2 separate regions of the Homo sapiens genome follow, and region 2 is linked to region 1. Evidence: fine-mapped expression QTL. A gene starts in region 1. The other region holds a variant in brackets. All regions are shown on one strand. Distances are from middle to middle.

Region 1 (4,399 bases):
CTATGGCCCTGCAACCCCTCCCCGCAAGCTGTCCAGTGAATAACTGAATTGGGTGGAAGAAGTCCTTCCCCCACATTTGTACATTGGAAAATAATATAATAATATATATTATATATATATAGGCAATCTGCCTGCCTCGGCCTCCCAAAGTGCTGGGATTACAGGCATAAGCCACCATGCCCAGCTGGAAAATAATATTTAGTACTAATTCTAAAATTGGCATTTTCTTAAAAAAGGTTACATGAGCTCCTCAGAGAACTGAAGTTTCTCTGGACCCATATAACCCACGTCTATGGGGTCATTCCCACACCTCACAGATAAAATAAGGGAAAGAGTACATATAATTAGGAGCAGACAGGAAGCACACAGAAATGGAAAATGTGTGTGGGCTTTGGCATTGCAGATCTGAATTCAAATCCTCACTCTGCACCTTATGAGGTAAGTATCCCTAGACATGTTACTTAGCCTTTCCGAATCTTGCTTTCCAAATCATGCATAATATTCACCTCCCTGGACTATTGTGAAGATTAAACATGAAAGTAGTTGTGACAAAGATGGTCAGTGGGTATTATCTGTCTTCCTTTCTAGTAAAAAGGCTCTAGACTAGAATGTTCTTAGGTCTTTAATAGGCTTCAGCAATCTCACATGTTAATATTAGTGTTATGTGCTGAACTGGGCTTCCCCCAAATCCATATGTTGAAGCCCTGAACCTCAGAATGTGACTGTATTTGCAGACAGAGCCTTTAAAGAGGTCATTAAGCTCAAATGAGGCTGTTATGAGAAGAGGAAATCGGGACACACAAAGGGAGATACCAGGAATGTGCATACAGAGAGAAAAGGCCAAGGAGGGAGGCGTGGGGAGAAGCCAACCCTGCTGACACCTTGGTCTTGGACTTGCAGCCTCCAGAACTGTGGGAATATAAATTTCTGTTGTTTAAGCCACCCAGTCTATGGTATTTTAAACACATTAATACGACTAATATTATAAAAGTGTGTGAACAGTTAAGAAGTGTGCTGACCAGGTTCTATCCTAGTTTTGTAGACAATTAGCAGTGTGATGTAGGGCAGGACATTTAACTCCTCTCTACCACATTTTCCACCTCTCAAAGCCAGGCTGCAAGGATCTACTGAGATAATGTACATAAAGACCCTATCACGAAATAGGTGTCCCGTAAAGGGTGATTTCCTTCACTTCTGTCTCCAAATATCAGGTTTCTCATCAGTAACTTGGGAGATTGGATGGACTAAGTAGTCCACCTCGTTCCTTTCAGCTTTGATCATCTGTGATTCTAACAACAGTCTTAGCAACAAGAGTGAGTTTCCTGGCCGGGCACGTTGGCTCACACCTGTAATCCCAGCACTTTGGGAGGCTGAGGTGGGCAGATCACGAGGTCAGGAGTTGAGACCAGTCTGGCCAACATGGTGAAACCCTGTCTCTACTAAAAATACAAAAATTAGCTGGGGCGCGGTGCCGGGTGCCTGTAATCCCAGCTACTTGGGAGGCTGAGGCAGGAGAATTGCTTGAACCCAGGAGGCAGAGGTTGCAGTGAGCCGAGATCACGCCACTGCAGTCCAGCCTGGGTGACAGAGCAAGACTCTGTCTCAAAAAAAAAAAAAAAAAAAGAGTGAGTTTCCTTTCTGTAATGCCAAAAAGTGTTTCCAAAGTCCTTTCCATCTCACAGTAGTCCAAGGGGTACATGTACCCCTTGAACCTGATGAAGCCCCAGCAGACCCGATTAACCACCCCTAAAGGTTTCTCGGCAGGCAAATCCAGCCAGGCATGCAAATCACACTCGTCAATGTTAAGGCTTTTGTACATCCCAGACACAAGCTTTAAATGAATGTAAACCCAGATTTTAATATTTGGGCCCCAGACCTTAAAAATCCCATTCTCTCTACCCACAGTACCTGGCTGAGCAATCCAATTGCCCTCTTCTTGGGAGACCAAGACATGTTTTTAAAATAAAGTTTCTTTGTATTTGCTTTCCGTTTCAGTGAGGCCTCGAGTTCTTGTAGACCAGATACCTTCTTGTTCTGTGAGAGGACAGTGTACAGAGAGGGGAACTGCTGAGCAGTTCCTTTTTTTTTTTTCAAAGCACAGTAAGAGTGGTTTGGACACAAGTACTACCAGTTCAGAAAGGGAAGATGGGTGTAGGCAGGAGTAGCCGGGGAAGAAGTAGAACTTCAGAGTAAAAGATGCAAGAGCTAGAAATTCCGTCAAGAAAGGAATTACTCATTTGTTTCCTGTTTGTTCACAACATATGAATTCATTGCTGTTGAGTTACTTATTCTATACCTTAAAATGAAACAAAGTCTTCTGAACATCCAACATATATTTTTTTTCTTTTTCTTTCTTTTTTCTTTTTTTTGAGACAGAGTCTTGTTCTGTCACCCAAGCTGGAGGGCAGTGGCACAATCTCAGCTCACTGCAACCTCTGCCTCCCGGGTTCAAGCGTTCCTCCCGCCTCAGTCCTCCCAGTAGCTAAGACTACAGGCGTGCACCACCATGCCCGGCTAATTTTTGTATTTTTAGTAGAGACAGAATTTCACCATGTTGGCCAGGCTGGTCTCGAACTCCTGACCTCAGGCAATCTGCCAGCCTCAGCCTCCCAAAGTGCTGGGATTACAGGCGTGAGCCACCATGCCCAGCCACAACATGTATTTTTAATGCTTAACCATGGGAGATAGAGCGGTAAATGAAATGAGCCAGCTTAGTTGGCTAAAGCACATTGCTACTGCATTCAAGGTCATGCTTACCCCTGTACCTTGAATCCCAGAGGACTTCCAGCAGATGTGTTCTCTCAGTCAGCAGGGTTCTGGGCAAGGTCACACAGGGCAAACAGATCACCAGTTTTGGTCCACTCCACCGATGACGCACGGGGACACCCTCCGGAGTATAAACAGCCAGGGGCTTGCACAGGCACACTCACATTGGACGTTTGTGTTCACAGACTCCAGGAGGCCAGCTTATACTCAGCTGAGGACTGAAGAAATCTCTCTGCACTTCCCTTGAGGATGACATTCTTGCATACTCTTTCCTCTGTCTTTGCATAAACTACCAGGAACATGTCTTTGTGTTACATAACTTCTTATTTCAAAAAGAGCATTCTGACAGTAGCCTATCTGCCATAGAGGGATACCAAAGTTTCCCGGCAAATAAATGTCTACATCCTGGGTTTTCTAAGGGGGCATCAGTGTCAGTGTTTCCCAACTTGTGAGGTGGGTTTCTCTGAAGTGAGATTGAGGGCTACACTATCAGCTAGATTTTTAAATTGTAATGAAACCTATATATAAACATATGTTCAAGAGAAAAAACTGCAAAGACAGCCACCAAAATAGTAATGATGCTTATTGCTGGGGAATACAATTATAAGCAATTTTAAATTTCTGTCTTTGGCTTATCTGTATATTCTAATTTTATTTATCAACTTATTTATTTTTTATTTTATTTGTTTATTTATTTATTTATTTATTTATTTGAGACAGAGTCTCGTTCTGTTGCCCAGGCTGGAGTGGAGTGCAGTGGCTCAATCTTGGCTCACTGCAACCTCTGCCTCCCAGGCTCAAGCAATTCTTGTGCCTCAGCCTCTCAAGTAGCTGGGATTTCAGGTGTGGGCCACCACCATGGCTAATTTTTTGTATTTTTAGTAGAGACAGGGTTTTGCTATGTTGGCCAAGCTGGTCTTGAGCTCTTGGTCTCCAGTGATCCACCTGTGTTGTCCTCCTAAAGTAATGGGATTACAGGCGGGAGCCACCATGCCCAACCTGTATATTCTAATTCTTCATAGCAAACACCTATTACTTTTGTACTAATAAATGATGTAATATAGAATAAAAAGGGAAAATGTAGAAATATGGTTGTAGTAGGCTGAATAGTGGCTACCCAAATATCCCAAATCCTAATCCCTGGGAACTGTAAATATTGTGTCTTTCCAGATATGTTCCATTTAAGGCTCTGAAGATGGGGAGAGAATTCTGGATGATCCAGGTGGGCCCTTAATAATGGTCCCTTATTACAGAGAGCCAGAGGGAGATTTGAAACTGACAGGAGAAGTCAGTAAGACCATGAATGCAGAGATTCGAGTAATACGGCTACGAGCCAAAAGATGCCAGCAGCCACCTGCAGCTGGAAGAGGCATAAATGGATTCTCCCCTAAAGCTCCCAGGAGTGTGGCCCTGCTGACACCCTGATTTCAGCCCCATGATACTGATGTTGGACTGGTCCTCAGAACTGTGAAAGAATAAATTTCTGTTGTTTTAAACCACCCAGTTTATGATATTTTGTTACAGCAACCACAGTAGACTAATACAGTAGTATTTCATAGTAAAATAAGCAAAATTATATCCATATTCATTCAAGTACATCTTCTGGGCTGCCTCACCAGTTTCCTTTGTGAGT
Region 2 (4,399 bases), 42 kb before region 1:
GTTTTGTAGTTGACTGCAGTGTGATGTGACCTTACCTTTATAAGAGCCACTTGATGGAGTAGATCTGTCACATTACTAAGATACGATATTTCTTTTTTTTTCCGAGACGGAGTCTTGCTCTGCCACTGTGCCCGGCCAATACATTATTATTAACTTAAGGCTGTACTTTATTAAGGCTTCCTTAGTTTTTGTTTTGTTTTGTTTTTTGAGATGGAGTCTCACTCTGTCGCCCAGGCTGGAATGCAGTGGCATGATCTCAGCTCACTGCAACCTCTGCCTCCTGAGTTCAAATGATTCTCCTGCCTCAGCCTCCCGAGTAGCTGGGATTACAGGCACCTGCCACCACGCCCAGCTAATTTTTGTATTTTTAGTAAAGACGGGGGATTTCACCATGTTGGCCAGGCTGGTCTTGAACTCCTGACCTCATGATCCACCCACCTTAGCCTCCCAAAGTGCTGGGATTAGGTGTGAGCCACCGCACCTGGCCGATATTTTCTTTAATGAAATTTATAAATATGCTTCTTGAATAATACACATTTTGGGAAAGGGAAAAATGTCTGTTCAAAAAGTAAAAGTCTCTTTTATAGCTTTTCCAAACTTAATTGCTAAATTTTTCTTTGAGGTTCTCCTGAATTATGTCTTACAAACTAAAAGCAAAAATTTTTAGCAGAAATTTTGGAATACATTCTATCTAGCACAATTTGAATTTTTAATTATCAAGATTTTTGTTAAAGTTTCTCTCCTTTAAAAATTTTAGTACATTTGTAAATAGTCCATGGTTCTCAGTGTTTTATTTTGATTAAGTGACTACCCAACTTTTGGTGATATGCAGTGAAAGAATCCCAATTTTCTATGTTACATTTAATCAAATACTGACATAATGAATTTATCTTTCCTGACACATTTTCATTCATTGGCTTTTTAATTTCTTATTTTATTAACAAAATATATCAGATATATTACCAAAACACATGGAGTTCCATACATAATATGGAATTTGATGTCTTTTCAAGTTGCACAAAGAATTTGAGCATATATAATTTTACCAAAGCATAATGGACCTTAGATTATAGAATACAGCATTGTTAGGTCTGCAGTGGGCAGTTTCTTTTTGTTTTGCTTTGTCAAAAATGGGAAATTGTTAACTGTGATGAAATGTGAGAATTACATAGATTATGTTATTTTTTAGTTGTTTTCCAAATGCAGAGTTTAAGGACTTTCTAACATGGCTAGTATTACTTCCAAAAAGTATAACAAGCAGCAGTCACACATGACCTAGGAGGGTTTTTTATTGTTTTATTTTATTATGCATTCCATAACAGTTTTAAAATGGGATTTTGAGAATGGACTTAACTTTCCTGGAATCCAATGCTCCTGGAGATTTATGACTTTCCCAGCCATCAGCCAGCTATCTAGAGAAGATTTTTGTTTTTCTTTTGCAACAGTTTCTTCAGTCAACTCATTCACTTTCAAATAGGAGCAGCACTTTGAAATCCTTTTTCTTCACTGTGGATTAAAAACATCCAAGAAGCCATCTCTGTCAAGCAGAATTGTCATCTGTGGTAATAAGTGACCATGTCCTAAATACCTTTTTCTTAGTGAGGAGTTGGTCATTGTCTTTGGCATCTGCAACCCCTGTTCAGGCATGTGACCTGCTAAAGAAATACAGCCTACACTA[C/T]CTTGACTACTGGGGAAAATGATACTTCGTAAAATGTAATAAGGCAACCTGTTCCTTGGCCTTTATCTTATGTTTTCCAACTATTACTGTATCTGTTATTGGTCTACTATTACAGGATGATTCTTCTTCCTCCATTGATCTCAACTAAATATGAATTAGGGTCATGCATGAAATCTGAACTGCCGTGTCCTGAGTTATGGTTAAGAGGTATGTGCTGCCACCCCATGCATGTCTTCCCCATCCCCATAGGATTTTAAAGTGTTCAGGTACCAAACACAGTTCTGTGTGAGGTTTTATGCCTACTTCCTCAACACCAATTCAGAGGCAACACCTGTGCATCTGTCCCACCAAAGGTGCTTTAATACCTACCTTCACTATTTGAGAAAGGACACTCACAGTTGCCTGTGGGTTATGAAAGAATTGGCCCTACGTCCTGCATGTAAGATGTTACAGGGGACATTGGGCCAGGCATTATTATATAGAGAAGTCTTATTTGCCAAGCTCTGACTAACTTCTGGATATGAAAATAAGGAACTTGCCCAGCATAGGCCTATAGGCAGCAGCCTTACTAGTAAATCTTGCCACAGAATCACTTGAAGCTAGACAGAGAAAGAAGTTCAATTTAAATATTTGTCCCATTGTTTGTGATTAGGATGTAAGCTTTGTGGAATGTAATTAACCCTGCTTTACGAAGTCACCATATTATAATAGGAAAAACACTGCCTAGGAGGCAAGAGATCTGAATTCCAGTTCTGATGCTGCCACTGTGTAAGGAAGTAGTTTTATAACCCATGGGCAAATCATCTGAGCTTTCTCATCTGTAAAGTTAGGGAGAGGAATTAATTAGTTGATCTGTAAAATAATCAGCTTCAAAACGTTATGGCTAAATCTGTAGAATGTATGCCCAATTGCTAAACGGATGTTGTGCCCAGAATTTTATCTAGTGACTACCTCAACATACAGGCCAAGCGTTACCTACACCAACACCCAAGCCATTAATTTGAGGTGCCATGAGAATAGGTGAACCACAGCCTAACACCATTTAGGTTTTTGTGTTTTTTTCAGGCTTGCCTCTACTTAAATATATTTAGATGAGAGAGTTCTCTTAGACTTCTTTCTTTGTAAGGAAGGGTTATTTGGGGAAGTGTTGGAAAAAAGATTAGGGCAGGGTACCCTTAGTTTATATAGGGTACAAAAGAATGGGAAACATCTTCCCTTTCTTCTTTAATCTCTGAAGTCATGTTTGGAATTACATATAATGTAGCAGGTACTGGAGAGGACCTGAATTTCAAGCTTCTGATTTAGCTGTTTGTAAACTTCCAAGTTTTGCTTGACTAAAGAATGCTGATCTTTTTTGGGAGTCTGATCTCCTTCTAATATCAGAAAGTGCTTTTTATATTCCAGATTGCTTGAATTAAACTGTTTGGATTAAAGAACATATATGGAGTTTCCTCTCTGGTTTTAAATAATCTTTCTTTATTCAGTAGCTATTAATAATTTATCTCATATTCAGCGAATATTTATTGAGAATATTGTTGAGAATCTCTTACATGCCAGGCACTATACTAAGTTAATATGCATTCAGTATACCAGTTGGTGTGACCCAGACCAAAGGTAACACAAAGATGAATGAGAATTCCTTCAAGGCGCCGATAATCCTAGTAGGAGAGCTAAGACACAAAACTGTTGCATGTTTTTAATCATCAAATTAAACTTCTTTCCACGTCCTTATCTTCTTTGGCATCCTTTTGCAAGATTTTTTTTAACTACCAGGCTTAAAATAATGAGGTCCCAGAGCACTTACTGGCTTCGAGTACACTTTATTTAAGCAGTTACTAGTTTAAAAGCACCTGTAATAACACTGAGATCATCATCATCAAATTGCCACCCAACAAGCCTAGCTTCTTGCAGAAAAGTTAACTTGGATAACACTTGGCTAAGTTTTCTGACTAATGCTGGATCAGGTAGAAATTCTTTAGTACTAAAGTCAAAAAACACTAATTGCTTAAGATTCTCAAATACACCCATGAAGGCAAGCCATCCATCACTGCTCACACGATTTCCCGCCAAATTCAACTGCTGGAAGTTTTTCAGAGGGTTCTTTCCAAAAAATGCACCTGGGTAAAGAAATAAGTATATTAGTTGGAAGAAAAATTTTTTTTAAAAAAAAAGAGAAATAGGTTCTACATTTATTTTACATACTTTTTTTTCACTCTGAAATGGCCATGTTTGAACCAGTGCTTTGCCTCAGAAAGAAATTATTAATATAATTCTCTATAGCTAGGGCAGTGATTGTGAATATGGTCTATTATATTTTCCTAGAGTATAAGGGAATCTGATAAATAGTGATTCGTAGTGAGGTAGCAACAATATGTAAATGAATTACTTTTTTTTCCCCTTTTCCTTACTCCTAGGAAATGGAAGGTTGCTTTAATTAAATATTCAGTACTTGTTTTCAAAACTGGAGTCAATCTTTGGCAATATTAAGTCGTTTCCTCTTCTGAAAAAGTAAACACCACCTAACTGTTGTTTCTATGGGTATGTTCCTAACTGTAAACTTGAGTAAGTGAGCCTCCTTCAGTATCTAAAGATTTGGGTGTTTTTGTTTACCTGTTTATGTATAACCCTCCCGAGCCTCTTCAGGAAGTTCCTCCATTCCTTACAGAATAGGGCACCTAAAGTATTTCCTACATAGGGTAGGTGGATATCCTGTCTTTCTGA

Which allele goes with the higher level. Positions count from the first base shown, and alleles are read on the strand shown. Sizes are in standard deviations (SD) of each study's normalised expression.
For the expression in fibroblasts of the gene that starts at base 2,057 in region 1, C is the low allele of the variant in region 2 and T is the other (small effect, 0.25 SD a copy in GTEx).

The links. PIP is the estimated chance that this variant, and not a neighbour inherited with it, causes the effect. A credible set is the group of variants that fine-mapping cannot tell apart.
Region 2: its variant is the best candidate, but not a certain one, in a credible set for the expression of NLRC4 in fibroblasts (GTEx, PIP 0.72).

What each region holds. Positions count from the first base shown.
Region 1 is chr2:32,262,830-32,267,228 of GRCh38, forward strand. NLRC4 (NLR family CARD domain containing 4) reads right to left here and starts at 2,057. Exons shown (of 9, transcript NM_001199138.2): 1 at 1,909-2,057.
Region 2 is chr2:32,220,971-32,225,369 of GRCh38, forward strand. It overlaps SLC30A6 (solute carrier family 30 member 6), which reads left to right. Exons shown (of 14, transcript NM_017964.5): 14 at 1-3,409. It overlaps NLRC4 (NLR family CARD domain containing 4), which reads right to left. Exons shown (of 9, transcript NM_001199138.2): 9 at 3,483-3,795. The coding sequence ends at 3,503. Among named protein-coding and RNA genes, the nearest start is that of NLRC4, 42 kb to the right of the region's middle. The variant C/T (reference allele first, on the strand shown) is at 1,679.